Linked DNA regions of Homo sapiens. The protein of the gene in region 1 interacts with the protein of each later gene in a biochemical or structural test. Each region holds a gene or a part of one and is shown in the gene's direction. Other genes may lie near its edges. The genes, in order: CSF3R and HCK.

Region 1 (15,379 bases):
CTGGGAGGCGTGTTTAGTTTTGATGTGTGTGGAGCTTCAAGGGGAGCTGGGGGTCTGAGAGGCAGGACTATGAGGTGCTACTCAGGGTCATGCAGCATCAATATCATCTGTGGGTCTAGAATGCAGGCCTTCCCTCCCCACCACCACCACCACCGTCATTCCCAGGCCTGGGCCACCTTCTACCTCTGTTATGGCACCCATTCCAGCCTCCATGTCTTTGTTCTCACTGTTCCCCTGCCCAGCATACCTCCCCTCTTCCATACAAGTCCCACCCATCTGTTCAGTTCCCACCTCAACCAAGTGGTTAGAGCAAAGGTCCGAGGTCAGAGGTGGATGGGGCCTGAAAGAGTGGTGGTGAGTGTGGCAGAAAATGCAGAAGCCTTATTTAGAGCCCAGCTCAGCCTCAAAATGGCTGTGGGACATGAGCAGGTCACGTTCCCTCTCTGGGCCTCAGCTTCCCAACCTTTCAGGGATGAATAAGGAAAGATCCTTGAAGTTACAGATCTGGAAAGCGCCATAAGGTAAAACATCATCAGGACACTGAAGGTATACCACAGGACACACTCTACAAATGAGGAGAAAGCTTATGAAAAAAGACTTAGTGGCCCAGTGCGGTGGCTCACGCCTATAATCCCAACACTTTGGGAGGCCGAGCAGGCGGATTGCCTAAGGACAGGAGTTCGAGACCAGCCTGGCCACCATGGTGAAACCCTTTCTCTACTAAATATACAAAAATTAGCCAGGTATGGTGGCAGGCGCCTGTAATCCCAGCTACTTGGGAGGCTAAGACAGGAGAATCGCATGAACCTGGGAGGAGGAGGTTGCAGTGAGCCAACATCGCGCCACTGCACTCCAGCCTGGGCAAGAAGAATGAAACTCTGTCTCAAAAAAAAAAAAAAGAAAAGAAAAAGAAAAAAAGACTTAGTGGCATTTTCTCTGAGCCTTGAAGAATGAGTAGAATTTCAGCAAGTTGAGGTGGAGGTGAGGGAGGGCACTCGAGGCAGAGAGAACAGCCTGAGCAAAGGCCAGGAGGCGGAAAGTTCAGGGTGGGTTCAGGGAAGAAGGAGTGTCCAGTTTCTTTCTAAGTCAACAGCTCAAGGGCTTTTTGTAAGTGGGCTGTCCAAGCGGAGCAGCCTCCAGTAAACACCTGTTTGCACAATCGAGGTCACACACAGGGGCGCGTTTGCACAATGACCTGTTTGCACAATCTTAGCTGCCTGCTGTATTCCAGCCAACCCCGGCCCTGGCAGCTGAGCACCACAGCCTCAACTTCCGGGCACTCACCCCAGCTTGCCCACCTGGACCCCGCCCCGGCCCCTCTGAAACAAGCTGCTCCTTGACCTACCCAGAAGCCCCACACATCACAGGCAGTAACAGAAACAGAAACAACTCGGGGCTCAGTAGCTAGGCTGCCAAGAATAGGGTTCCCTCACCAGCACTCCCTTACCCAGGGTTTCCAACACACAGAGGCCTTGTCTGATGGAGGAGGGGCGGGAGGCAGGACAGCTGGAAGAGGAAGTATCCACAAAGCCGACACTGGGTGCGGGTAGAGGGGATGACTCCTCGTCTGTCTTGTGCTCTTCAGTGCACCATAGTAAACACTTATTAAGCATTTACTGTGTTCCTGGCTGTGTTCCACAAGCCTTACGGTCACTGATTTCTCTCAAGAATCCTATGAAGCCAATACTGTTAGCCCCATTTTACAGATGACAAAACCGAGGCTTAAAGAGATTAAACATTTGTTTGGAGTCACACAGGCAGCAAGTGGCAAATTGAAGCAGCCTGACTCCTCAGCTCATCATCTTAACCTCAGTACACTCTAAAGAAAGCTCTTCCTTAAATCTAACTTTCATTTCCTTAAATCTAACTTTTATTCTGGCTGCTGCAGCTCCATTTCCTGGTGCAGGTCCTCAACAGAGAATGGAGCACAAAGGAGAATAGTAGAATCTCCCTCCTAAATATTGAATTATGCAGAAGGGAACAAAGGAAAGCAACTTTATTGAACACCTACTATGCGCTGGTTACCATACTAGGCATTGTATTTCTGATAGCTAATTTAATTATCACAAAATCCCTGGGAGGAGTTATTATCACTGTGACAGATTAGGAAACAGAGGCTTGGAAGAGGTAAACACCATCTCCAAGGTTCTGCAGCCCAACAGATATGCATTGAGTATCCTCTGTGTGTCCGGCACTGTACTGAGGCTAGAGAGGCAGAGGTGAGAATACAGTTTCTGCCCTCAAAGAGTTCACAGTATAATGGAGGAGGCAGGCGGCCAACAGCCTACTACAGTATTACAGGATGAATGGGGAGAAGGGCCCCTAATTCAGCTTGACTAAGGTGTGGAAGCCCAGAGGGATGCTGAGCTCAGGCTGGATGCTTGAACTGGGTCAGGAACAGGACTCAGCCAGCAGGAGGTGACAGGCGCTCCGCAGAAGAAAGGCACAGGGTTGTTCCAGAGCCTGGGGCAGGCAGGGAAATACTAGTGAATTTGGCATGACCGGAGCATGACGGGCTGGATCTGAGGAAGCAGGGGCTGGTGAGGCAGGAGAGGGAGGCGAGGGTAACTTGCATGTCCGGTTCAGGAGTTAGGATGTGACGACGGGCCTCTGAAGAAAGACAGGGAGAGGAGAAGGATTGCAGGGCCATTGGCAAGGCTGAGACGGGAGCTCCATAAAGGCAGGAACTAAAACTGTGTCTCACCATTGTGTCCCTGCACCTGCTCCAGGAGCAAGTTCTCTGAATGATGAACAAAAGGCCCATTCTCCTTCATTAAGAACTGACTGGGGCCAGGCGCGGTGACTCATGCCTGTAATCCCAACACTTCGGGAAGCCGAGGCAGGCAGATCACTTGAGGCTAGGAGTTCGAGACCAGCCTGGCCAACATGGCAAAACCCTGTCTCTACTAAAAATACAAAAAAATTAGTCGGGCGTGGTGGTGCGTGCCTGTAGTCCCAGCTACTCAGAAGGCTGAGGCAGGAGAATCACTTGAACCTGGGAGGCAGAGGTTGCAGTGAGCCGAGATCGCGCCACTGCACTCTAGCCTGGGTGGCAGAGCGAGACTCCATCTCAAAAAAAAAGAATGAAAATAAAAATAAAAAATAAATTTAAAATGACCAGAAGGCCAGGTGCGGTGGTTCACGCCTATAAAACCAGCACTTTGGGAGGCTGAGGTGGGCGGATCACTTGAGGTCAGCAGTTCAAGACCAGCCTGGCCAACATGGTGAAACCCAATCTCTACTGAAAATACAAAAATTAGCCAGGCATGATGGCAGGCATTTGTAATTCCAGCTACTTGGGAGGCTGAGGCAGGAGAATCACTTGAACCTGGGAGTCAGAGGTTGCAGTGATCCAAAATCGCGCCACTGCATTCCAGCCTGGGTGACAAAGTGAGACTCTGTCTCAAAAAAAAAAAAAGAAAGAAAGAAAAAAAAGAACTAAAAGAACTGACTGGACATGGGAATGTGGAGAAAGGGTTGTAAGGAATGACTCCTGAGTCCCTGAGCTGCATGACTAGGGAGAGGAGGGGATGGTGGTTAATTCACCATGACAAGGTACGTGGGGATTAGAGACAGATTTGGTGAAGTGGGGGAAGATTCATCCAGTTGATCATTCATTCAACAAACACGCATGGAGGCCTTACTGTGTGGCAAGCAGTGTTATAGACACTGGAGATAAAGTTTTGAACAAAACAGATAAAAACTGTTGCTCTTATGGAACTTTCAGTCTAGTGGGGATTGAGACAGCCAATATCAGATGGTGAAAAGGGATTTGGGGGAGAGAGAGATAGGGAGTGGGAGGGAAGGGGCTTGCAAATTTTGAAAAGGGTGCTCAGAGAAGGCCTCAATGAGAAAGTGACATTTGAGCAAAGACCTGAAGAAGGGGAGGGACCAGCCCATGTAGCTATTTGCGGGGGAAAGAGTCCAGGCAAATGAAACAGCAAGTGCAAAGGCCCTGAGGCAAGAGACAGCATAACAAGTTCAAGAAGCAAAGAACACAGAGTAGCTGGAGCAAGGCAGCAAGGGGGAGAATAACAGGAGAGGGATCCAGGAGGTAACAGGGATACCAGGTTTTGTAGGGCCTTGTAGACCATCCAAAGGGCTTTGACTTTGACTCTGAATGAGACAGGAGCCATTGGAAAGGTTGGGACGAGGATGGGCTGATCAGACTTCTGTTTGATTGATATCGCACTGGCTGCTGAAGGAATTACAGACAGGTGCGGGAACAAGGATGAAATAGAAGCAGGAGAGCAGGCAGGGGGCTATTGCGATTATCTAGGCAATAGATGAGGGTAGCTTGGAGCTGGCTAGTATTGGTTTCAGTTATATTTATATTTTCCAAATATTATCATAAAAATATTCAAACGTAGAGCCAAGTTGAACTTTACAGTGAATACCCAGGATTCTGGTTATATTTGGAAAGAAGAGAGTCCATGGGACTCACTGAGCGAGCAGAGCCTGTGGGATATCTTGGGAGGGTTGCAGCAGGCAGTCAGGTCATTTGACTTGGAACTAGAACTACAGCCCTGGTCTGCAGCATCACACCAGACCCAGATGCCTCAAAAGGATTATATGTTAAGGACAGTCTGCTGGTCTGTTGGCACCTAACCTTTTTTGGGTTATGAATCCAATAAACTATGAGCAGTTTGAACCTTTCTCAGAAAATGCAAAGAAAATTATTTGTAGTTTTAGAAGAATCATGAATACAGACAATAAAAGACATAAAATGTAGTCTATTTCACTCAATTACAAAATATTCAGTGTTGCAGAACCATTGTGGGTAAACATTCCTAATTTTTAGTGAACATATAAAGACCCCGTGCCTCACCAAGACGTCCTCCTGTCTTGCCCCCAGAATTCCTGTTTCTCCATCTGCCTGGTCTATGGGCAATGCACAGAATACGTAATGAAGAGGGGAGCAGTGAGTATTGGGTTACACAATTCCCTGGAACCTGGAACACACCCTTCTGAGTACTGTGAAGATGTGGTCCCCAAGGCTAGAGCTGAAAAGAGGCTTAGGGCCGGGTGAGCCTTCCAGCCAGGGCCTGCCTCCAAGTGATGCTCCCCCAGGGCAGGGGGCATAAGGATGGCACCCAGCCAGGTGGGAGCCTGGGCCCTGCCCAGCCTCAAAGCTTTGAGCTCAGGAAATCCGGAGGCAGGGGAGGGGGACATCGTTGCCACATTCCCCAGCCCTTTAAGACCCCCAAGGCAGGAAGGCTGCCCGGGCCTCACCAGCTTCCCTCACAGGCTCCTTCCTGGGAGGAAGGGGCTGCCTGTGCCCTCGAAGGCGCAAGGGAGGGCAGGAGGGAGGCTCGGAAGGTGTTGCAATCCCCAGCCCCCGGGCCTGTCAGAGGCTGAGCCATTAACGACAGAGCTCGGGGAGAGAAGCTGGACTGCAGCTGGTTTCAGGAACTTCTCTTGACGAGAAGAGAGACCAAGGAGGCCAAGCAGGGGCTGGGCCAGAGGTGCCAACGTGAGTAGGGGATCCCTAGAGAGGGGCTGAGCCTTGGGCTTGATGGAGAGCTGGAATCCTGGGGCCACTCCCCACAGCTCTGCCAAGTGTTCATGTCCGGGGTCCTAGGCCTGGGGCCCGGGATTCGTCCTTTGGAACCCCAGCCCTGGACACTGAGTCTCTTTTCACAGGATGCCCCTACTTTTGGGGGTATTGCACCAGGGAAGTCACTCACAGCCAAGTATCTCCTTGGGGACACTGAGCTGGGCTGGGGACAGGCATAATCATTCTCCCCTCCCCATGCCTCTGTCTCTCAGGACGTGTGTGTCTGTGAGTTCCAGCCGCGCAACCCCTCCCCGTCTGGGTCTCTATTTCACTCTCTGTTTCCATCTTTCCTCCTCAGCTTCTCTCTGGCTTGCTATCTCTCTGAGTTTCTCTGTCTCGCATATTTCCTGCTATCTCTTGAATCTTAAACTCTCGGTAACAGACGCTTCCCGGGCTCCAGGCCTCCGAGTGCCCCCCCCCCGCCCACTCTCTGGGTCGGCGTACATTGGGCCCTTTTTCTCTGTCTCTCGATATCTCTCTGGCCTCAATCGTCCTCTTGGCGAGTCTCTCTGTCGTTTCAGTCTGTGTGGATTTCAGTCACCGCCTCACTCTGTCACTCTTCCTGTTGCTCTCTCTTTTTCTTTATCTGCAGCATATCTGGAAATGCCTCTCCCCTCTGTTTATTCCCAGCCCCCTCCTCCCTCCCCACCCTTCCCACAGAAAGAATCTCGAGGTGAGAGTAGAAACAGCAAGGGAGCGAGGGGTGTGAAGTGGGGAAGAGAGTGTGAGGGGAGAGGGCTGAGCGTGATGAGGGAGAAACAGAAAGAGGGAATGTGAAGGCAGCCAGCCCAGGAGACATCGAGCTGTGCTGGGCCACAGGAGTGAGCACCTGCAGAGCCCAGCAGAGATGGCCGCAGTGACAGGAGGGCCAGGGGGCCCAGGAGTTAGGAGGAGAGGATCCAGAAAGGGGGCTTTGGAACTGCGCAGTGTGGCACAGACAAAAGCAAGGTGGCAGTCCTGGGAGGTGTGACCACACAGGCTGTGAGGGAGGCAGGGGTGAGGGGAAAACTGAACTGTGCTGGATTCTGTGAGCTGCTGACCTGCTATTTATGGCTCGTGAAAATAACCTATGGTTGCTGAGTGCCAACTCCATGCAAGGCACAGGGCTAAATGCCTTTACCAAAATAATCTCATTTCATCCTCACAACAACGCTGAGGAGTGAGTGCTAATGTTATTTCTTTCCCACAGATGGGGAAACTGAGGCTCGGCTCGGAAAGGTGAAGTAACTTGTCCAAGATCACAAAGCTGGTAAGTGGCGGAGCTGGAGATCAAGTCAGGTGACCTGAATCTGAGCTGGGCTCCAAACCTCTCTGCATATCGGCCCCCCAGAGAGTGAGACCATGCTCCAACAGGTCCTAGGCCCACTTAACCAGGCTGGGGGACGTCCAGGGCTGCAGTGGAGGACCAGAGACTGAGGCCAAGCAGGCCAACACCCAGCACCCAGGGGAAGGATGCCGGGGCCTCTTGGGGTTAGGTTGTCTACTCTGGACAGGAGCCAGTGGAGGCGGATAGGGTGGTACTGCACGGGGCATAGGCTGGGCCTGAAGCTGACCCTGGCTAGGGCAACAGGGCTGGGATAGGATCAAAAGCACATGGAGATGAAAACCAGTGTCCCAAAATCTGGGCCTTGGAGGCTAAATCTTCCCCAACCAGTGTTGCGGGGGGATAATCAAACTGGTATGCTATAGTAAGAAGGTTACCAACCACCGATGGGTAGACAGATGCTCGGGATACTTGTACAGGTTTCTCACTGCACAAAACTGAGGAGTAACTGGAGCCGAAATCCAGGCTGTTCCCTAGTTGCCAGGTCCTAGTGTGGTGCTGCATCCATCCAGAGGAAGGGGTGCTTTCTTTCTGATTTGCACAAAGGAGACTTACGGGCTAGCAGTCACTGGGTATTCCGATACTGCAATATATACATGGATAGACTGGGGGTTTGGGTAAGACCCCTGTGAGCAGTAACAACCTTGGGTATCTGGGCAGTTCTTATCCACACCTCTGTCTGGGAGGAAGAGAAAAGGATTCTCCTACCTTTCTCCCTGCTGAGCACGAGGGATCTGCTGGGACACCACCTGCGTGTATGTGTCCAGATATGTACGTGCAAGCTGACCAGCGATTCCCACTGATCTGCCACCAAGAGCACCAACTCGTGCTGGAGGATCAGGTGTTGGCTCCAAGACCCCAATGGGAGCAGGGTGAAGATGAGGCTGGACACCCACCCAAGTGGTAGAAACCTCTGCATACTTCCTAAGACTGGAGCCAAGGCACCCTCCATCCAGGTGCTATGGCCGTGACCTCATGATGCCTGACCCCAGAAGGCCACCAGAGGTCTGTGCCCAAAATTGGGGGCACACTGGACCCTTCGGGTGCCCCACTTGATATTCTCTCAGCCCACATGGCTGAGGCAGCCAGCTTCCTGCAGGCATAACCTGACAGCCCCTTGCCTCAGCTGCTCCATAGAGTTCTCCCTTTCTTCCAGGGAGTGTCCCTGACAACACTGGCATGGCTTCCCCAGGAGAACCTGCCTAGTACTCATGCATGCCCAACCTGGATGTGCCAGGGAATGAACACCCCAAGAGGCATCCCTTGACCAATGGGGGGCAGGAGTCAGTGGGTAAATCTTTCCATCTTCCCTCCCATCCAAGGGATAAATTGACCCTCCAGTGGACAGCTCTGAGAAGTGTTCTACATGGCTCTTTGGAAGGTTCCAGCAGGATAGAGCCCCAGTTGTCCATAGAGGTGACCAACATGATGATGTAACTTTGTGCTGGCTTTCTCTCCTTCCCTGTTTCATTCTCCCCAGTCCCTTATCTGCTGCTAGGATCTTCTCAAAATAAACTACCAGCATGCAATTCCTCATCTCAGGTTCTGCTCTCTAGGGGTAGCCTAGCTTAGATAGCTGGGAAGGCGGAAGAATGCTCTTCCTCACTGCTCCTTTCCCTGCTCTTTCCTGGAAGGCAAGTATAATAACTGTGGCTGTCACTGTCATTTCCTATGTTCCAGGCACTGTGAAAAGCCCTTGACTTGCATCATTTTGTGTCTTCCTCTCAAAGTCCCATGCAGTATAGGCTGCTGTTACTTCCATTTTGCAAAGAAACGAAGGCTCAGAGAAGTCAAGCAACCTAGTCAAAGCTGCACAGTGACAGACAAGGATTAAGATCAGCTCTGACTCCAAAGCCCATGGTCTTAAACAACCCTTCTGCCTACAGGTGAACATCAAGTTGGTGCTATGGCAAGGCTGGGAAACTGCAGCCTGACTTGGGCTGCCCTGATCATCCTGCTGCTCCCCGGAAGTGAGTATGGCCAAGGATGAGGGTGCAGTGGGGAGGGGAAGCTACAAGGAGAGATATTGGGAATTTCCTTGCACTGCCACATGGCTCCTGGGATTCCCAGAGAATCCCACAAGATTCAAGTCTGAGCCACAGATGTGGGGTAGCTGGTCTCCCACCCACAGACTTCCACAGGCAAACCACCACCCAAGAGGAATGGTGAGACGACCCGGGCTGGTCATCCTGGAAAAGGCCAGTGAGGCGCAGATCTTGTCCGCAAATCTCTACCAAGCTGTCAGAAGCAACCCATGGGTCCTATGCAGCCTTGGTGGGCAGCAAAGGGATCAGGATGGAAGCTACAAGGGGACAGGTTTCATCCTGAAATAAAGAAGCCCAGGCAGAGCTTGGTTTCCAACCATGGAAACTCTGTCTTGAGAGGTAGAGAACTTCCCATCCCCAGGGGTATGCAAGCTAAAGCCAGGATTGATAAAGATGCTGTGCAGCAGGGGTTGGCAAACTTTTTCTGACAGTAATGTTTAGGCTTTGCAGGCCACATACTGTCTCTGTTCCTTGTTTGTTTGTTTGTTTGTTTGTTTGTTCGTTTGTGAGACAGGGTCTCCCTCTGTTGCCCAGGCTGGAGTGCAGTGGCACAATCGCAGCTCACTGCAGCCTCAACCTCCTGGGCTCAAGTGATCCTCCCGCCTCAGCCTCCAAGGTAGTGCAGGGCATGCCACCACACCCAGCTAATTTTTTTTTGTTGTTGTATTTTTTTGTAGAGATGTAGTTTTGCCATGTTGCCCAGGCTGGTCTCAAACTCCTGGGTTCCAGCAATCCACCTGCCCTGACCTCCCAAAGTATGGGGATTACAAGCATGACCCGCCACGCCCTGCCTATTGCATGTTTTTTGGTTTTTGTTTTTTTGTTTTTTGAGATGGAGTCTCACTCTCTTGCCCAGGCTGAAGTACAGTAGCGGGATCTCAGCTCACTGCAACCTCCGCCTGCCGGGTTCAAGCGATTCTCCTGCCTCAGCCTCCCGAATAGCTGGGATTACAGGCACCTGCCACCAGGCCCTGCAAATTTTTGTATTTTTACTAGAGATGGGGTTTCACCATGTTGGCCAGGCTGGTCTCAAACTCCTGACGTCAGGTGATCCACTCACCTCGGCCTCCCAAAGTGCTGGGATTACAGGCATGAACCACCGCGCCCAGCCCTGTGGCATGTTTTTATTTGGTTTTTGCTTTGCTTGTTTTTAACTCTTTTAAAATGTAAGAAACATCTTTAGTTGTTAGGCTATACAAAAATAGGCCACTCAAGCCCTGCTGTAGAGGGCAGAGCATCAGGTAGAGTTTTGAAGCAAACAACCTTGTAAAGTTTCTTCCAGCCTGAAATCCTGAGTCTGGGCCGGGCGCGGTGGCTCACGCCTGTAATCCCAGCACTTTGGGAGGCCTAGGCGGGTGGATCACAAGGTCAGGAGATCGAGACCATCCTGGTGAACACAGTGAAACCCTGTATCTACTAAAAATACAAAAAATTAGCCGGGCATGGTGCCGGGTGCCTGTAGTCCTAGCTACTCGGGAGGCTGAGGCAGGACAATGGCGTGAGCCCAGCAGGCGGCGCTTGCAGTAAGCCGAGATCACGCCACTGCACTCCAGCCTGGGCAGCAGAGTGACTCCGTCTCAAAAAAAAAAAAGAAATCCTGAGCCTGTGAAGCAGTAGAAGCCCTTTGTTGAGAATCATGAACTTGCTCTGTGACCCTGGGCAAACTGCTTCTCCTCTTAGGGCCTTCGCATCCCCATCAGTAAAACGGGCCTAAGAACACCTGAGAGAGGACAGAAAGCATTGCGGGCAAAGTGTATGTTGATTTGTTTGTTTATTTATTTATCAAAAAAAATTCATCGGCCGGGCGCAGTGGCTCATGCCTGTCATCCTAGCACTTTGGGAGGCTGAGGCGGGTGGATCACGAGGTCAGGAGATCGAGACCAGCCTGCCAGCATGGTGAAAACCCATCTCTACTAAAAATACAAAAAAAAATTAGCCGGGCATGGTGGTGCGTGCCTGTAGCCCCAGCTTTTCGGGAGGCTGAGGCAGGAGAATCGCTTGAACCTGGGAGGCGGAGGTTGCAGTGAGCCGAGATTGTGCCACAGCACTCCAGCCTGGGTGACAGAGCGAAACTCCTTCTCAAAATAATAATAATAATAAATATTCACCAAGGTCCTACTCTGTACTAGGCACTGGGAATACAGTAATAAGCAAACAGCCAAGGTCTGCTGGCCTCACAGAATTTATAGTCTAGCTGGAGTGATAGATAAGTAAATAATCATAAGACTCTATAATTATGAAGGATAATAAGAGCTTTGAGGAAGTACAGGGACCTTGGCCTCCTCCAGTTCGTTAGTGCCTGGTCTGGTTTCTTCAAGATGCCTAAGCGTTAACCAGGTGAAACAGGGGTGGGAGAGAGAAAGAAGAGTCCCTCCAAAAAGAACAGCATGCCGGGCACAGTGGTTCACATCTGTAGTCCCAGCACTTTGGGAGGCTGAAGCAGGAGGATTGCTTGAGCCCAGGAGCTCAAGATTAGCCTAGGCAACATAGTGAAACCCCATCTCTACCAAAAAAAAAAAAAATCAAAAAATTAGCAAGGTGTGCTGGCATGAACCTGTAGTCCCAGCTACTCAGGAGGCTGAGGTGGGAAGATCACTTGAGCCTAGGAGGTCAAGGGTGCACTGAGCCGTGATCGTGCCACTGCACTCCAGCCTGAGTGACAGAGCAAGAACTTGAAGAAAAAAAAGAAAAGAAAAAGAAAACCAAAACAAAACAACAACAACAAAAAAAAAAAAACAGCAGGGACAAAGATCCAGAGATTAGAAAGATTTTGGAGTTTTCAAAGAATAGCAAGAATGAGCCAGAATAGCTGGAGCTGAGAGACCGGTATAAGCTGGAACTGAGAGGGTCAGGCAGGGGCCAGGCCACAGGAGCTATTGAAGGATTTGAGTGTTTATCCTAATGATGGCAGCAAATACTCACATGCCAGACACTGCTCTAAATGCCTTCCATATGTTATCGCATGTAATCCTTCCAGCAACACTAAGGTAGGGACGATTTTTATCCCCATTTTACAGATGAGAAAACTGAGGCACAGGAAGTCTTAGAAATATACCAGGATCATGTAATTAATAAGCAATAGAACCAGAATTTAAACCTAGGCAGTCTAGTTCCAACATCCACACTCATCCATCACACCACACTGCCTTTCAGAGCAATAATGTGCCATTGAAGTGCTGCGATGGAGATGGGGTAGCAGAATCAGATTTGAATTGTGAAAAGATTGCTGTGGCTATGGGTTCTTATCACTCTAATCACTGCTTGCACCATCCTTGGGGAGGGCACTGGGGAGTTAACAGTCTCCATCTGGTGGTGTGCTGGTGCTGGCTTGCAAAAACTAATTGTGCACATCTCTTCCCAACTCCCCGATCAATGATGTCACATCAATAGGCTGAAATCAGCTACAGTGAGAGCACTTACACCGCGGAAAGGCACACACTACAAACCAGGGTCTGCTTTTCTCTGCCAAGCTGGCTGATAAACGGTTACCAGCACATCACTATCTCTGTGTCACCCCCGTAGCCTCTCGAAGTCTCCGTCCCCATCCTTCCATTTCCAGCCCCCATATCTTGAAGGGTGAGACAGGAAGGTGAGGCCTCTGAGTCTAGGAGTACAAAGGCCTAGATTATAGCCCAGCTCTGCTAGGCAGAGGCGTCGTTCCTGGCCCATTCTCTTCCACCCCAGGTCTGGAGGAGTGCGGGCACATCAGTGTCTCAGCCCCCATCGTCCACCTGGGGGATCCCATCACAGCCTCCTGCATCATCAAGCAGAACTGCAGCCATCTGGACCCGGAGCCACAGATTCTGTGGAGACTGGGAGCAGAGCTTCAGCCCGGGGGCAGGCAGCAGCGTCTGTCTGATGGGACCCAGGAATCTATCATCACCCTGCCCCACCTCAACCACACTCAGGCCTTTCTCTCCTGCTGCCTGAACTGGGGCAACAGCCTGCAGATCCTGGACCAGGTTGAGCTGCGCGCAGGCTGTAAGTCCTTCCAGCCATCCAACTACTCTGCCTCCAACACCCTCCTGCCAATACTAATAAGAATATTACCAGCCGGGCACGTTGGCTCACGCCTGTATTCCCAGCACTTTGGGAGGCCGAGGCAGGCGGATCACCTGAGGTCAGGAGTTCATGATCAGCCTGGCCAGCAAGGCGAAACCCCGCCTCTACTAAAAATACAAAAAAATTAGCCAGGCATAGTGGCGGGTGCCTGTAATCCCAGCTACTCGGGGGGCTGAGGCAGGAGAACTGCTCGAACCCAGGAAGCGGAGGTTGCAATGAGCTGAGATCACACCACTGCACTCCAGCCTGGGCAACAAAAGCGAAACTTGGTCTCAAAAAAAAGAAGAAAAAAAAAAAAGAGTACTACCTATTGAGCTCTTATCTAATAAGCACTTTATGGGCATGATATCAGGTAACAGTAGTACCAGTTGGTACTACTATGTAGCCTCACTTTGCAGATGATGAAACTGAGGTTCAGGGAGGGTAAGTGACTTGCCCTTATCACACATTAATAAGGATGGAGGCAGTGTGGCTCTAAAGCCAGTGTTGTGACCACTACTCTACATAGCCCAAGTCCTCAGCCATCTGAGGGTGTCTCCAGGGAGAACATCCTCTACCAGCTGGGCTTGTCCCCCACCCCAGTTTCAAACTTCCTTTCAAACTGAGCAGGATGGAGTTTGTGCCAAGCTGAGGCATAAGGAAAAAACAAAGACCGAGGTTCTTGTTTAAGAATCAGTAATGGGCCAGGTGCAGTGGCTCACACCTGTAATCCCAGCACTTTGGGAGCCTGAGGTAGGTGGATCATTTGAGGTCAGGAGTTTGAGAACAGCCTGGCCAACATGGGGAAACCCCGTCTCTACTAAAAATACAAAAATTAGCCGAGTGAGCCGAGATCACGCCACTGCACTCCAGCCTGGGCCACAGAGTGAGACTCTGTCTCAAAAAAAAAAAAAAAAAAAAAAAAAGCACCAGTAATGGCCACTGCTAACACTTACATAGCATTTCCTGTAAGTTAGGCACTGTTCTGAGCACTTCATGTAGAGTGAGTCATTTAGCCCTTGTGATAACGCTAGGGGGTGGGATTTTACCATTATCCCCATTTTACAGATGAGGATGCTGAGGCATGGAGCAGTTAAATAACTTCAAGATCACAGGGCTAATGAATGGCAGGACCAGGATGAAAACTCAAACACTACACTGTCACTGACAAAGGGTCTAGAGTTGGGGGCCTTGGAAGTGGGCCACCACTGGGCTGCTGGGAGTCTGTGATGCTTGCCCCGGTGCATGCCTGCAACTTAGCTTCCCCCAGGGCTGCCCTTCCAGAGCCACTCTGCCTGGAGACAGGGGGACAGACAAGGTGACAACAGAGGAACCAAGCCAGGGCAAGGCAACAGGGCCAGCTGGTCCCAGAGGAAGCTTTCTGAGTGGTCCCACCCAAAGCCCTCACACTCTTCCCACCCACATGCAGACCCTCCAGCCATACCCCACAACCTCTCCTGCCTCATGAACCTCACAACCAGCAGCCTCATCTGCCAGTGGGAGCCAGGACCTGAGACCCACCTACCCACCAGCTTCACTCTGAAGAGTTTCAAGTGAGGAGGGGCCCCCACCTTGGTCCCCTCCCTTTGGATTCTGGGGTAGGGCATGGGTAGGATGCTGGGCATGCCTCTGGGAGGGAGAAGGGAGCCTCGCTTTCTTCCTCTGCTTGGCACCCAAGCCTGGACTATTGGCAGGAGCCGGGGCAACTGTCAGACCCAAGGGGACTCCATCCTGGACTGCGTGCCCAAGGACGGGCAGAGCCACTGCTGCATCCCACGCAAACACCTGCTGTTGTACCAGAATATGGGCATCTGGGTGCAGGCAGAGAATGCGCTGGGGACCAGCATGTCCCCACAACTGTGTCTTGATCCCATGGATGTTGGTGGGTGATGCAGGGGAGGGAGGGGATCCCCAAAATGGGCAGACACTGAGAGGAATGGAGAGGGAAACACAGAACTAGCGACAGACAAGAAGACACTGGAAGACCTAGAGACAGAGGCACAGAAGAGGGACAGAGACAAAGAAAGGTGCAGCTGGAGACAGAGAAATGGGGACACAGACCCAGAGACAGGAAGAGACACAGAGGCAAAGAGACACATTCAGTCATGCTTTCAGCGTGTTTCCTAAAGCACCCACTACATGTTAGGCACTGCTCTAGGTACTGGGGATACAAAGCATCAAAAATGCCCTCAGAATGTTAGATTCAAGTGGGGGGGAAAATAAGATAGAATTTCAGATAGCAATAAGCAGAAAGGAGAAATTAAAGGAGGAGAAGGGCATAGAGAGAGAGGGGGGAAGGGGAGCACTGGCTATTTTAATATGCTGGTCAAGAAAGGCCTCACTAAGAGGGTGACAATTGAGCAGATCCTTGAAGGAAATGAGGGAGCAAGCCGCTGGATATCTGGAGGGAAA
Region 2 (15,842 bases), on another chromosome or scaffold:
CTTTTGTTAAATTTATTCCTAAGTATTTTATTCTTCTGGTGATATTATAAATAAAATTGTTTTCTTAATTTCATGTTCAGATTGTTTATTACTAGTGTATAGAGATACATTTTTTTTTAAATACAGTGTTTCGCTCTTGTGGCCCAGGCTGGAGTGCAATGGCGCAATCTCGGCTCACTGCAACCTCCACCTCCCGGGTTCAAGTGATTCTCCTGCCTCAGCCTCCTGAGTAGCTGGGATTACAGGCGCCCGCCACCACACCCAGCTAATTTTTGTACTTTTAGTAAAGACAGGGTTTCACCACCGTGCCCAGGTACAGTTGGTTGTTATATATCCTTATTATTTTTGACAACTGCTTAGTATTCAATTATTTTATTAAGATTTATTTTCCCACGTCCCAAATCATGGGCATTTAGGTTATTTTCTGTCTTTTCCTAGTAAAAGAAGTGCTGCGATGATTCTCCTGTACATACTATGAATTCTTTTAGGCATTCTGATGTTTTCTCTCTCTGAGCTCCTTTAGTCGTCAGCTGCTACCACTCTGACCCAAGCTCCCATCATCTTGCCCTTGGATGACTCTCTCCCTGCTCACTGGTTTCCCTCCTTTCCCTTTGCCCCTCCAATTCATTCTCTACCCAGCAGCCAGACAGATCCTGTGAAAAGATAAGCCAGTTTGGCTCACTCCTCTGTTCAAAACCCTCCAACAGGGCTGGGCACAGTGGTTCACACCTGTAATCCCAGCACTTTTGGGAGGCTGAGGCAGGTGGACCACCTGAGGTCAGGAGTTCGAGACCAGCCTGGCTAACATGGCAAAACCCCATCTCTAGTAAAAATACAAAAATTAGCCAAGCGTGGTGGCGGGCGCCTGTAGTCCCAGATACCTGGGAGGCTGAGGCAGGAGAATCACTTAAACCTAGGCGGTGGAGGTTGCAGTGAGCCGAGATCGTGCCACTGTACACCCTGGGCGACAGAGTGAGACTCTGTCTCAAAACAAACAAACAAAACCCTCCAACAGCTCCCATCTTGTGTCAATTAAAATTTAATATCGATACCAAGATGTCTGTGGCCTTCACAATATGACCCCACTTACTACCTCTCCAACACTGTCTCCACCACTCTTGTCTGCACCCTCTGTGTTCCAGCCACAATGGGCTCTTTGTATTCCCTAAACACACCACGTGCTGTTGCCTCTCAGGACCTTTGCTGTTACTGGTGCTTCTGCTTGGAACACAATTCCTCCAGATTATCACATGACTTATCTCTCCAATTCAAAAGGTCTTGCTCACATGCCACCTCCTCAGAGAAGCCTTCTCTGACCACCCTGTCTCAAGTTACACCATCGCTCCTCTCCATCCCACTACCTCTCCCCTTGACCTCCCTAGTTTTCTTATAACCCATATCATTCCCAAACATGGGATGAGTTTTCAGTATCTGTTTATTATCCATCTTCCCCTCAATAATGTAAATTCTAAGCACATAGGAAGGAATTAATTTTGTTTATTACTGTATCCTCAGCATCAATAATAGCACATGGCACATAGTAGGTGCTCCATAAATATTTGTTGAGTGAATGAATTATCATGCCACTCCCCTGTTTATAACCATCCAATAGCGTCCCATGTATGTTAGAATAAAACCTATGCTCCTCACAGAGGCCTGCAAGGTCCTGAGTGGCCTGGCCAATTTCATGGACCTCACCTTGGGTCTCCCTCCTCTGCTAGACACAATGGGGTTCTTCAGACACACAAAGCACCTACTTTCCTTGAGGCTTTTGTGTATTGTATTGGTTATCAAGATTGCATAATAAACTACCCCGAAGCTTAAAGGCTTGAAACAATAAGAATTTATTGGCAGGGCACGGTTTCTCATGCCTGTAATCCCAGCACTTTGGGAGGCTGAGGTCGGTGGATTACCTGAGGTCAGGAGTTCGAGACCAGTCTGGCCAACATGGTGAAACCCTGTCTCTACTAAAAATACAAAAACTAGCCAGGTGTGGTGTCAGGCACCTGTAATCCCAGCTACTCGGGAGGCTGAGGCAGGAGAATCACTTGAACCTGGGAGGCGGAGGTCACAGTGAGCTGAGATTGCGCCTCTGCACTCCAGCCTGGGCAACAGAGTGAGAATCTGTCTCCAAAAAAAAAAAAAAAAAAAAAAAAAGATATTACCTGTTCTGGGGAGGCTTCCCTACCTTCCCCTGTTAACCTGTCAAAGCCCCTGCATGGAGCCCCACCCCTTGATAGTGCTTGTTGCAAAATTCCAACCTGCCCTTATTGGTGCAACCATTTGTCCAATGCCCTCCAGTAAGTGGAAAATGCCATGAGGCCAGGGATTTCGGCTCCCTCATTCTCTGTTGTGTTCCCTAACACTCAAGACTCATTACCCAGTATGTGCCCATTATTATGTTTGTTGACCAAATGAGAGAATCAGAGACATCAAATGGCTTGCTCAAGGCTACACGTCTAGAGGTGGAAGGAGCACTAGAATCTGGGCCTTGTTACTCCTGATCTAGAATTGGCCTCCTGCCCCAGGACTCACTTGGTTCTCCAGACTTCAGTCACAGCAAAGTCCACCCTCATTTCAGAGTTCCTTTTATTCCATGTTGAAAAGGGTCCACTACCCACAGGGCAATGTCTCCTTTTTAAAGTCATATGCTCCTTCTTTTATCTTTGGAACAAGGCAGAGTGACAAAGGTGATTTCCAAATTATACTTGAATCAGTGCCTAAGCAGCAGTTTGAAATCTTAATGATTAGGCTGTACTAATGAAATTGACCATCTATATATAGCAAACCTAAGCACTTTACTTATATTTCATTCTCAAAATGACCCACTGAGGTAAGTAGTAGTATTATTCCGACTTGACAGATGAGGAAACTGAGACTCAAAGAGGTGACAATCAAGTCACCTCTTTGTACAACATTACCCAGTTGATAACAGCAGTGCCAGGTTTGAACTCTAGTTGGACTCCTACGATGGAGCATTTAGCACCAGTCTTTTGTTTTTGTTTTTGTTTTTGTTTTTGTTTTTTTTTGAGGAGTTTTGCTTTGTCCCCCAGGCTGGAGTACAGTGGTACGATCTCGGCTGTCTGCAGCCTCCGTCTCCCAGGTTCAAGCAATTCTCCTGCCTCAGCCTCCCAAGTAGCTGGGATTACAGGCACCCACTACCACACCCGGCTAATTTTTGTATTTTTAGTAGAGACGGAGTTTCACCATGTTGGCCAGGCTGGTCTCGAACTCCTGACCTCAGGTGATCTGCCCACCTTGGCCTCCCAATGTCCTGGGATTACAGGTGTAAGCCACCACACCTGGCCCTTAGCACCACTTTTGTGGTCAGCTATAGTCTCCATGACAATGAATGAATGAATAATTGAGTAGACAAAATGTTTGCCACCCCCAAAGACTGGTAAGGGGGTGTTTTAGAATACAATTTGTAATTGTATAAATGTTATTTGGTGCAAATATGGGTTAGATGGGAACTTTTTTTAATTGAAAAGAATGATAATGCCAAATGTTGGCAAGGATGTGGAGCAATTGGAAATCATAAATCACTGGAGGGAATGCAAAATGGTGTAACCACTTCAAAAACCAATTTAGACCAGGCACAAAGGCTCACACCTGTAATCCCAGCACTTTGGGAGGCTGAGGCAGGCAGATGGCTTGAGCACAGGAGTTCAAGACCAGCCTGGGCAACACGGTGAGACTGTATCTCTACAAAAAAAAAAAAAATAAGCTGGGCATGGTGGTGTACCTGTAGTCCCAGCTACTCAGAGGCTGAGGTGGGAGGATCACTTGAGCTCAGGAGACAGAGGTTAAAATGAGCCAAGATCTCGCCATTGCACTCCAGCCTGGGTGACAGAGCAAGACCCTGCCTCAAAAAAAAAAAAAAAAGAAAAACAATTCAGCAATTTATTGCAAGTTAGACACACACTTGCTATATGACCCAGCAATTCCAATCCTAAGTATTTACCCGAGAGAAATAAAAATATGCCTACACAAAAACTTGTACATAAATATTTATAGCAGCTTTATTTATATAGCCCCAAATTGAAAACAACCCAAATGTCTCTCAACAAATAAATGGATAAACAAATAGTGTTACATCTATACTATGGAATACTACTCAGCAGTAAAAATGAACGAACTACTGGAACATGCAACAACATGGAAAATCTCTGAGTAAAAGAAGACAAACACAAAAGAAACATACTGTATGACTGCATTTATGAGAAATTCTAGAAAAGACAAAGCTAATGTATAATGGCAAAAAGCCAATTGGTGCTTACCTAAGGCTACCTAAGTGTGGGAGGAGTTGACTGCAATAGGACATAAGGGAACTTTTTGGGGTGATAGAAATGTTCTATATCTTGATTGGGGTGGTGGTTACACAGGTATATATATTTGCCAAAACTCATCAAGCTGAATATTTATGATGGTAGATTTTATTCACGAAATTATGTCACGATAAAGTTGACAGAAGCTTTGGGAACATACACAAGGATTTCAATTACAGCATTACTGTCAGGACAAAACATTTGGGAAACTGTCCATGAACAGGAACATGTGTCAGCTCTCTGGCTCTTTACTATCAGAATGGCAAACTTTTGAAAGGAGATGTAGCTGATGCTAATGCGGACCCTCCGATGCCCCCTGGGCCTTAAGTAAGAGCTGCACTTCTCTTCCTGGAGACCCTCTGGTGGCTGAAGCATGCACCAGGGAGGCCAAAATGCTGGAAGGTCAGTACCCCTGGAGTACCCCTCATCCGGTGTCCAACAGGAGTTGGTGTGTAAATGCCCCAGCTCCCTCGCCTGACAGGTGGAGTAACCCTGAAGTGGGTATATCTCCAGAGATCCCTGCAGAATTGAACTCCAGTTGCCCACAATGGTAACTGGCTTCATGATATTCCTTTTTACTGGCTTCCCTCCCTTCCCTGTCTCATCCACCTACTCCCCTACCAGTGTCTTCTGCATCTCCTAAATAAACTATTTTCACTTGGATCCATGTCCAGGGTCTGCTTCTGGGGAACTCAAATTAAGACCAGTGGATAATACCAAGGGTTGGTAAAGATAAGGGGAAATGATGGGAGAAAGAGTGGGGCAGTGGCGATTCTGCAAACACCTGTCATTCTTGGCAAAGCAAGTACTTAACAAAATTCTAATGTAGGACGATAAGGGGACGTGTATGAGGATGTCCACTGTGGCACTATTTACACTAGTGGGAAATTGTGTGCAATCTAGGTGTCCATGACTAGGAGAATGGATAAATAAAATGTGAAGGATGTAAACAGTGACTACACGTACAGCCGCTACCTTTGGCAACATGGCTGGATATTAACAACAGTGATGGGGGTGGCGGGAGGGAATGTACAAAAGTGAATAAGTAACATTAAACATACATTCAGAACATTATCTGTTTTTATAAAAAGCACATACAGACTAGGTGCAATGACTCACACCTATAATCCCAGTACTTTGGGAGGCCAAGGCAGGAGGTTCAGTTGAGCCCCGGAGTTCAAGACTAGCCTGGGCAATACAGCAAGACCCCATCTCTATTTTTTTTTAAGTTGTCTATGCCATACCACACCGAACACATCTGATCTTGTCTGATCTTGGAAGCTAAGCAGGATCAAGCCTGGTTAGTACTTGGATGGGAGACCCCCTCAAAATAGTTAGCACTGTAGGCTAAAGAGAAGGAAAAAAGGCCCATACAGGTACATATACCAAAAACATAAGAGTAGGGTCATTGTCTTTCTCATTCATGGTTCTTCCCCCCTTCCCCACCAGGGGACATTTTACAAATGTCTGGAGACATTTTGTTGTCACAACTAGGGAGGAGGATGCTATAGACAACTAGTGGGTAGAGCCCAGGAATGCTGTTAAACATCCTATCATTCACAGGACAGTCCCCCGCAACAAAGAATTACCTGGCCCAAATGTCAATAGTGCCAAATTTAAGAACCCCTGCATTCCCCAGCCCCCAGGACAGCTTTGCTGAATGAATTATGAATGAATGAATGAAGAAATGACTGTGGTCCTGATCAGCTGGTAGCAACGGGAATAGAGAGACGCGGTAGAATTCTTGTAGTTTTGGAGATTTTGGAGGTGTGTTACACAGCATTTAGGGTGATAGCCCCTGTCTTTTCCAGGAGAGGGTGTGTTCTGCCCTTGCCTGGAGCTGGGCACAATCCCATCCACTTGGGGCCTCAGTCACCCTCCAGCCCGACTCCTCCCCTCCCCCGACCACCTCCCCCAGCTTGGGAGTCCTCTGAGCTGCCAGGAAGCCAGGGTGGTTCCTTCGGGCAGGGAACTTTGCATGGCCATGGTGGTTCCTTCGAGAGAGGAACTTTGCATGGTGTCTGAATGGAGCAGGCCTGCGGAAGAGAAACCGCTGACCACAGACCTGCCTGGAAGTCTCGGGCCGCGGAGTTGGGGAGGGCCGGGCCAGAAGGGAGGGGTCGGAGTGGTGGGGAAAAGAGATCACGATGCTTCCGGGGTAGGGTAAGGCCTTTCCAGGGTGGGTTGGAATCTTTGAAGACTGTGGCAGGAATCCCTTGATAGGTGGGGTTAGGATCTCTGAAGGGCAGGGTTGGAATCTTTGGACCGGCGGTATAGACCCCTGGGTATTAAAACTCTTAGGCGGCGGGAGGTTAGATCGCGCAGGAGCAGGAGCGGTATTGGAACCCTGGGGTTTGTGTTCTAAATCTTAGGGCAGGGTTAGAATCCACTGAAGTGAGAGTTCGGATCCTTCCACTGGGCAGATTAGAATCTTTGGGGGCAAGTTGAGTTTAAAAATCCTTCAGAGGTGGGATTAAAAATCCTTTGGCGGGGCGGGGTTAGTATCTTGGGAGCCTTGGAGCGGGTGCTGGGGTTCTTAGACGGGCGGGTTCGAATCCCTAGGAGTGGGATTTGGGATCCTTTGGAGACTGGGGTAGGACGCTGGGCGGTGGGATGGGGAGGTGTTAGGGAAAGTGGAGCGGAAGGGATGGGGGTTCGCATCCTTGGTGGACGCGTTAGAAGCCTCCTATGGATGGTGCTAATATTTTTTTTCTCTTCGTGGAGGGTTTGGGATCCTTCTTGCAGGAGACGGAGGTTATGACCCTCGGGGAGCCGGTTAGGATCCTGGGGTGGCGTCTGAATCTTCGGGGAGGTGTTAGGACACTTGGGGCGGAGTTAGCCTCGCTCAGGGCGCGGCTAAGGCGCCCAGATGGCCTGCGGGCGCCACCACGTCCCTGGTCCCAGCTCGGGAGCACATCAGAGGCTTAGAGGCGAGTGGGAAGGGACTCAGACAGTGCAGGACGAGAAACGCCCGCGGCACCAAAGCCCCTCAGAGCGTCGCCCCCGCCTCTAGTTCTAGAAAGTCAGTTTCCCGGCACTGGCACCCCGGAACCTCAGGGGCTGCCGAGCTGGGGGGGCGCTCAAGCTGCGAGGATCCGGGCTGCCCGCGAGACGAGGAGCGGGCGCCCAGGTGAGTGCCGCGCACAGGGGACCGGGAATACCCGGCCCGCGAGGGGTCCCAGGAGGCGGAGGGAGCCCAGGAGCCTGGGGAGGGCTGGCTACGGGTGCGGCTGGGGGCAGCGAGGGGAGACGGAACGTCGGGGGAGCCGCGGGTAGCCCGGGGGATGAGGGGTCGACAGCGAGTGGAGGGTGCCCTAGGGAGGGGCGGCACTGTTGCGGACTGCTGGATTCCCGGGGAAGGGGACGCTCGGGCCCGTGCAGTGACTTTATCCACCACTTCTCTGGGCCGTCCAGGTTCCCCTTCTTGGGGGGGGGCGGGGATTTTTTTTTTAATTTAAAAAAGAAAAAGAAGGAAGGGATGGGGCTTCACAGAACCCGGGAAGGGGAAGGCCCTTACGGTTCCCGGTGGGGGCCGGGTCACGCCGGGTTGGCAGCCAGCTTGGGGAAGGGGGTAGTTGGGCGGAGGCGTGACGTGCGAGCCACACCCAGGCCGGCTGCAGCTGGTCGGCTCTCTGCCCCTCCTCCCACAACAGGTCTAGGTCAAACCCCCAAACCTCCTGGCCCCAGACCACACTGCATGCATGCCCTGTCTCTTTCCTCCTTGGACGAATTCTCCGCCTCCGAATTCGTTTCCTCATCTGTAAAACGGGGCTATGAAGTCTTTCTTGCAAGGATGCAGGAAATTGGAGTATGCGAGAGGTGGTGCGTGTGAGAGACAGGCTAGTGGGTAGCGGAGGGGGCTTCTAGGGGCAAACTGCCTGTTGGGGCTGGGGTAGAGGATTTGGCCTTTCTTTGCCTCTGTTTTCACAACTGCAGGATGGGGAGAGTAATAGTACCTCCTTCACAGGGTTGTTTAGAGGATTAATTGGGTACTGAAGGGGCCGGGCAGGGTGGCACACGCCTGTAATCTCAGCTTTTTGGGAGGCCGAGGCAGGTGGATCTCTTGAGGTCTAGAGTTTGAGACCAGCCTGGCCAACATGGTGAAACCCCGTCTCTACTAAAAGTACAAAAATTAGCCGGGCGTAGTAGCACACACCTTTAATCCCAGCTACTCGGGAGGCTGAGGCACGAGAATCACTTGAACCTGGGAGGTGGAGGTTGCGGTGAGCCGAGATCGCGCCACTGCACTCCAGCCTGGGCGACAGAGAGAGACTCTGTCTCAAAAAAAAAAAAAAAAAAAAAAAAGTTACTGAAGGAAAGCTTTGAGAATGCTGTCTGACAGTACACAGGCTTAATGTATGTTAACATTGCCCTAGCTAGACATATGGCCCCGTGTTCTCAGACTTTAGCCTACATCAGCATCACCTGGACTGCTTGTGAAAACAGATTGCTGGGCCGAATCCTAGAGTTTCTGATTCAGTAGCTCTGTGCAGGACAATGAGAACTTCCATCCCCGGTGATGCTGCTGCTGCTGATCCAAGGAGGACACTTTGAGAACCACTGGGGTAGCCTATGCCTGGCACAGAGAAAGGCCTCAATGCCTATCAGTTGCCTTATCCCATGGTTTTCTCTTTATGGTCCTTTTTTTTTTAGGGGAGGGGGTGACAGGTTAAAATACAGAAAAGTGAAGATAATAATATATTAGATGTCCCGAGAATCCACCATCCAGAATTAACAAATAATAGCATTTTGTTGTGTTTGTTTTGAGATTTTAAAAAATTAATTTACTAAAAGTAACAGAAAAAATTGAAGTCTCCCCACCTTGTATCACTCTCAGTCCTGTTTCTCTCCCTCCCCAGGGGCAACCGCTGTCATGAGTTACAGTCCTTCCAGGATGTGCCTCTGAAAATGGATTGCATATAAATGTACGCATAAACAACACGTAGGATTGTTTTGTGTGCTTTAAAAATGCTATCTATGCAGTGGTTCATGCCTGTAATCCCAGCTACTCGGGAGGCTGAGGCAGGAGAATCGCTTGAACCCGGGGAAGCAGAAGTCGCAGTGAGCCGAGATCGCGCCATTGCACTCCAGCCTGGACAACAAAAGCGAAACTCCACCTAAAAAAAAAAAAAAAAAAAAAAAAAAAAAAAAAAAAAAAAAAAAAAAAAGCCCGGACGCGGGGGCTCACGCCTGTAATCCCAGCACTTTGGGAGGCTGAGCCGGGCGGATCACGAGGTCAGGAGATCGAGACCATCCTGGCTAACACGGGGAAACCCCGTCTCTACTAAAAATACAAAAAATTAGCCGGGCATGGTGGCGGGCGCCTGTAGTCCCAGCTACTGGGGAGGCTGAGGCAGGAGAATGGCGTGAACCCTGGAGGTGGAGCTTGCAGTGAGCCGAGATCGTGCCACTGCACTCTAGCCTGGGCCACAGAGCGAGACTCCGTCTCAAAACAAAACAAAACAAAAAACTATCTAATTGTGAGACTTTTCTGCAATTCTGACAATGGGGATAGCAGAGGAGCATATTTGCCCCATCTTATCATTAAGTTGTCAAAATCTACCCAGGATGAGAAATAGAAAATAGAGGCCTCATTCATTCCTTCCAGCTGCTGTGGAGTATCCCAGCAGGTAACGACTCTACAGTATTTCTCTTTCCCCTGTGGATAAATACTCAAGTTGTTCCTAGGCGTTCACTACAACGAACAATATTGACAGGAGCATCCTGGATGTGTAGCTTTCGGCCCATGTACAGGTGGTTCTTGAGGAAAACACCAAAAGGCTGGATGGCTCCCCAGAGAGGGCACCTGTCACACTCCCCTTTGTGTGAGAGGAGTACTGTAGCCCAGAAGGGTCACCAGGGACTCTGGGGCAGAGAAGAGAGAAGAATGTTGCTCTGCTGATCTCCCAGCCGTCTCTGGATCAATGGCCTTTCTTTCAGGCCTCATGTTCTCTGCTGTAAGGCACTTCACTTGCCTTACTCACTATGCCTGGCACTTAATAAGTGTTCAAGAAAATGGAAGCATGAACCTTTTGAGGGAACAATAACCAATATTTTCATGTATCTTTATGTAGTCTTTTCTATGCACTTTTAAATTAACATAATTAGTATAATGCTACACATAGATTATTTTTATCCTATTTATTTGCTTAGTATTACATTGTAGCATTTTCCAGGTCATTAAAATGTTCTTAAATTTTTAGTGGCTGCATAATATTCCACTGTTTGCCTGTATTATAATTTGCTTAACCTTTCTAGCAGAGCAATCTTTTATATAGTTCAAAATTTTTAGAAATATTTTAATCGAGGTGAAATTCACATAACTTTATAAAATTAACTATATGATTTTTAAAGCGAACAATTCAGTGGTATTTGGTATATTCACAATGTTGTACAAACACTACCTGTCAGTAGCTCCTAAACATTTCCATCACCCCTGAAAAAGGAAACTTTGTACCCATTAAGCAATTACCCCCCATTCCCCCGGCCCCTGGCAACCACCAATCTGCTTTTTGCCTCTACGGACTAATTTATTCAGGATATTTAACATAAATAGAAGCATACTATGTGACTTTCTGTGTCTAGCTTCTTCCACTTAACATAATGTTTTCCAAGGTTCATCCACATGGTGGCAACTATTAGTACTTTATTCCCTTTGTGGCCAAATAATATTCCATTGTATGGATATTCCACAGTTTATTTACCCATTTATCCACAGATGGAAATTCAGGTTGTTTCCACATTTTGACCATTGAAAATAATACTGCTATGAGCATGCATGTGCATACATGTATTTGTTTGAGCACCTGTTTTCAATTCCTTTGGGTATATACCTGAAGTAGAGTTACTGGGTCATATAAAAGTTCTATCTCTGTGGCCGGGTGCGGTGGCTCACGCCTGTAATCCCAGCACTCTGGGAGGCTGAGGCGGGCGGATCACGAGGTCAGGAGATGGAGATCATCCCGGTTAACACGGTGAAACCTCGTCTCTACTAAAAAAATACAAAAAAATTAGCCGGGCATTGTGGTGGGCGCCTGTAGTCCCAGCTACTCGGGAGGCTGAGGCAGGAGAATGGCATGAACCCGGGAGGCGGAGCTTGCAGTGAGCCGAGATCGAGCCACTGCACTCTAGCCTGGGCGACAGAGCGAGACTCCTTCTCAGAAAAAAAAAAAACAGTAGTTCTATCTTTAACTTTTTGAGGAACTGCTATGCTGTTTTCCACCATTTTACATTCCCACCGTAATATACAAGGGTTTCAATTGGCTTCACATCCTTGCCAATGCCTACTATGTTTATATTTTATTAGTATTATTATTACCATTCTAATGGGTACAGAAAGCACGAATCTTAATCTCATTCAAACCAGGCTGCCCTCTGAGGGCTCTTACCTCAGAAAGTAAGGAGAAAGTTGTCTACATTCTAAGGACTAGCCAGGGCTTGGACTTTAAACTCTTCTAGAAAGTAAATTCTACAAGAGCACAAACATGTTTGTCCTATAAACCACTGTATCTTCTAACACCTGGCACCTGGCACATAGTAGGGCCTCAAAAAAACACTGATGGGACAAACGCAATGAATGTTGGACAACCTCCTCCCTCCCTTGCCTGAGATATTTCAGCTGCCCTCCCCGAACACCCCTCCACCCGCAGCGATTATTTTTAATTAGTTGCTAACATTTAAACTCAGGAGAGCTCACATAATCTGGATTTCTGTCTCCTAAAACATTAGAAGAGTTAGCAGCCCTGAGACTAGAACCCACGACTCCAGTGCTCTTCAGACAACCTCAGTGGAGCTGGGGGCTGCCCTGGGGGCTACACCTGGGCTGTCCAGCTTGCACAGCCCTTGCCAGGCCCACTTTCCTCATCCGCAGAACCCTCCACATCCCTATAGTCATTTGAGTTTTCAAACCCCACCCTTCGGGTCATGACAAGGCTTCCTTTTTTATAGAAAAGGAACATGAAGGGCTGGGTGCGGTGGCTCACCCTGTAATCCCAGCACTTTGGGAGGCCGAGACAGGCAGATCATCTGAGCTCAGGAGTTCGAGACCAGCCTGGGTAACATGGCAAAACCCTGTCTCTACAAAAAGTACAAAAATTAGCTGGGTGTGGTGGCACATGGCTGTAGTACCAGCTACTCAGGAGGCTGAGGTGGGAGGATCGTCTGAGCACAGAAGGTGAAGGTTGCAGTGATCTGAGACTGCACCACTGTACTCCAGCCTGGGTGACAGAGCAAGACCCTGTCTCATAAAAAGAAAAGAAAAGGAATGTGAAGCCTAGAGAGGGTAATTGACTTTCCCAAAGTCACACAGCAAGTTAGTAGCACAATCTCTCTCAGCCTCTTTCTTTCTTACATCTTTTTGTTGTTGTTTATTTTTCTTTTTTTATACCACAAGTCATCAAGCAATCACTTCTGCCTTTCTAAACAAACCCCACCACATGCACCAACCACATGTTGGTCCCCACCCCATTTCTCCAGTTTCCTCCCCCACAGGACTGGGAGTTTGAAGGTACTTTCAGAGGCGTGGGTAATGATGCAGAAGCAGCCTGTGCTTAAGTGTAAATGTGCCCTGGTCTTGGCCCCGGCTGTGGTCCCACATGCTGCATCCTCTGGATGGCACTGCGCTAGGACGTGCGCTCCTGACTCTCCCTTCGAGTCACCTCCCTGAGTTCCAGGCATCACCCTGAAATCCTTTGGCCCAGGAGATGTAAGTGCAGCCAAGAGAACAGGAATCCCAGCCTCATCTCTACCATAGAAATGAAGAACAGTGGGTACAGTACAGTAGACGACCCCGAGTCTGAGTGCCAGCTCTGCCAAAGACAGGTTGTGATGCACTAGGCAAATCTCTTCCCTTTCTGAGCCTCAGTTCCCAAATCCAAAAAAAAAATGGAACTGAGGCTGGGCACGGTGGCTCACACCTGTAATCCCAGCACTTTGGGAGGACAAAGCAGGTGGATCACCTGAGGTCAGGAGTTCAAGACCAGCCTGGCCAACATGGTGAAACCCCGTCTCTACTAAAAATGCAAAAATTAGCCGGGCGTGGTGGCGGGCGCCTGTAATTTCAGCTACTTGGGAAGCCGAGGCAGGAGAATTGCTGGAACCCGGGAGGCACGGTTGCAGTGAGCCAAGGTCTTGCCACTGCACTCCAGCCTGGGCTGACAACAGCAAGACTCTGTCAAAAAAAAAAAAAAGGGGGAGAACTGAGGAGGATACTACTCATGATTCCTGCAGCACAATTCCTTTTATGTCAAAACACACACACACACACACACACACACACACACACATACACACACTAGTCCATCATGGCGTATATGTCTTAGTTTGAGTTTCTCCAGAAGCAGACCCTAGGCAAGGTTTCAAATGCAAATAGTTTGAGAGCTGATTCCAGAGACCCTCCTAGGGGAGTAAGGAAGTGAGGCAGGGAACAGGAGGTAGTCATTAAAGGTGTCTTCTAAGCCCAGTTACCACTGCGGGCACCTGGAGCTCAATCCCACTGAGGAGCTCTGGGAGCCAGGGTAGAACAGGCTTGAGAGGTGAGGGAACCGGGGTATTTGTCCACCCTGTTCTCGCTCCTGTCTTTTGTTGAAAACTACTCCTGGGGATGTGATAATTCTCTAGCACTTTCGGCTTGCCAAGCCCATGGGCAGAGCAGGCACCAATAGCCACAGAGAAATCTCTCAGACAAAGAGATGAAGGTGCCGGCAGCTGGAAGTCCAGCCAGAATGTGCAGAAATGGTAAAGGGCAGAGTGATAGAGGCAGGGCACTGACAGCCTCTGCTTCAACATACATGTGTGTAAATGCAGAGGCAGAGGCTGAGGCCAAATGCTGGCAGAGGATATCTGGGTGGGGAAAGAGGTGGCCATGGAGGGCTTATAGAATGAGTAATCCAAGAGTGTCTTAAATGTATCTGTAATGTTTTAATCTTCCTTCCTTCCTTCCCTCCCTCCCTCCTTTCTTTTCTTTTCTTTCTTCTTTCCCTTCTTTCCTTCCCCCCTTCTCCTCCTCCTCTTCCTCCTCCTCCACTTTCTTCTTCTCTTCCTTCCTTTCTTCTTTCTCTCTCTCTCTTTCTTTCTTTTTTCTTTCTTTCTTTCTTTCTTCTTTCCCTTCCTCCTCCTCCTCCTTCTTCTTCTTTCTTGCTTCTCTCTCTCTCTCTCTTTTTTTTTTCTTTTTCTTTTTGAGACAGGGTCTCGCTCTGTCTCCCAGGCTGGAGTGCAGTGATGCTATCATGGCTCATGCAGCCCCAACCTCCTGCGCTCAAGCGATCCTCCCACCTCAGCCTCCTGAGTAGCTGGGATCACAGGCACATGCCACCACACCCAGCTAATAAAAAAAAATTCTGGTAGAAATGGGGTCTTGCCATGTTGCCCAGGCTGGTCTTAAATTCCTCGGCTCAAACGATCCTCCTGTCTTGACCTCTCAAAGTGCTGGTATTACAGATGTGAGCCACCATACCTGGCCTCTAATGGTTTAATTTTTAACAAGAAGGATGCACTAATGTTTTACTAGGTGGTAAAAGGTCATTTTAAAAATAAAATACATACCCTTCAAAAAATAAAAGAAACTGAGACCTGGAGCTTTGTCAATTATAAAAAAAATGTAAAAGGATCAGCGCCTGTGTTACTGAGGCTTTGAGGATTCCATTTGTGGAGGACAGGTTTGGGGGCAGCTGATCTCTCAGTACCACGGCAGGTTAAAGTGAAAAGTGGCCCTGGTGGTGAACTGGCCACCATGTCCTGTCTGGAGGGGGAAACTTCCACTCAGCGGCAGCCAAGGAAAGACTGCTCCTCTCCCAGCAGAAGCGAGCAAATGTGCATCACCCTTCTCAGTTTAAACATATATTTATAGCTATTGGTTTTCTTTTTGTTTGTTTGTTTTTGTTTTGAGACAGGATCTCACTCTGTTGCCCAGGCTGGAGTGCAGTGGGGCAATCTTGGCTCACTGCAACCTCTGCCTCTTGAGTTCAAGCAATTCTCCTGCCTTAGCCTCCCAAGTAGCTGGGATTACAGGCACCCACTACCACGCCCAGCTAATTTTTGTATTTTTGGTTGAGACAGGGTTTCACCATGTTGGCCAGGCTTGTCTCAAACTCCTGACATCAGGTGATCCGCCTGCTGACCTCAGGTGATCCGCCTGCCTCAGCTTCCCAAAGTGCTGGGATTGCAGGCATGAGCCATTGCACCTGGCCTATTTATAGCTATTGTTTAGACGGGAAATCTGGGGGCATCCAGCAGACTAAATGGGGACCTTACTGTCATATCTCATATCCTATTGGTCAGATGGATAATAAACAAATCAACAGGTAATACATTAGGTGCATTAGTCCAGGTCCTTTTTTATTTTTTCTTTTCTTTTTCATACTTAACTTCAGCATACCCTGAGATAGTTCAAGTCCTTTGAGAAGCAGACTCCCATAGCATTAAATGTGCAAGAAATTTATTGGAGGAAATGGCTATGAGAGAAAATGGGAAGAAACCAGGAGAGGACAGGAGAGCCATCAGATAGTGGGGTACCTC

What was found.
Region 2: the proteins of CSF3R (region 1) and HCK form a complex in vitro, tested with the Homo sapiens proteins (one study listed by BioGRID).

Annotation. Positions count from the first base shown.
Region 1 is NC_000001.11:36,472,905-36,488,283, reverse strand, and holds the start of CSF3R (granulocyte colony-stimulating factor receptor isoform a precursor), read left to right. Parts: upstream 1-5,370; 5' UTR 5,371-5,473; intron 5,474-6,746; 5' UTR 6,747-6,806; intron 6,807-8,203; exon of another isoform or gene 8,204-8,297; intron 8,298-8,767; 5' UTR 8,768-8,787; coding exon 8,788-8,851; intron 8,852-12,610; coding exon 12,611-12,907; intron 12,908-14,396; coding exon 14,397-14,520; intron 14,521-14,661; coding exon 14,662-14,849; intron 14,850-15,379. UniProt on the Homo sapiens protein: Receptor for granulocyte colony-stimulating factor (CSF3), essential for granulocytic maturation. Plays a crucial role in the proliferation, differentiation and survival of cells along the neutrophilic lineage.
Region 2 is NC_000020.11:32,045,029-32,060,870, forward strand, and holds the start of HCK (tyrosine-protein kinase HCK), read left to right. Parts: upstream 1-7,213; 5' UTR 7,214-7,396; coding exon 7,397-7,458; intron 7,459-9,187; exon of another isoform or gene 9,188-9,251; coding exon of another isoform or gene 9,252-9,253; intron 9,254-15,842. UniProt on the Homo sapiens protein: Non-receptor tyrosine-protein kinase found in hematopoietic cells that transmits signals from cell surface receptors and plays an important role in the regulation of innate immune responses, including neutrophil, monocyte, macrophage and mast cell functions, phagocytosis, cell survival and proliferation, cell adhesion and migration.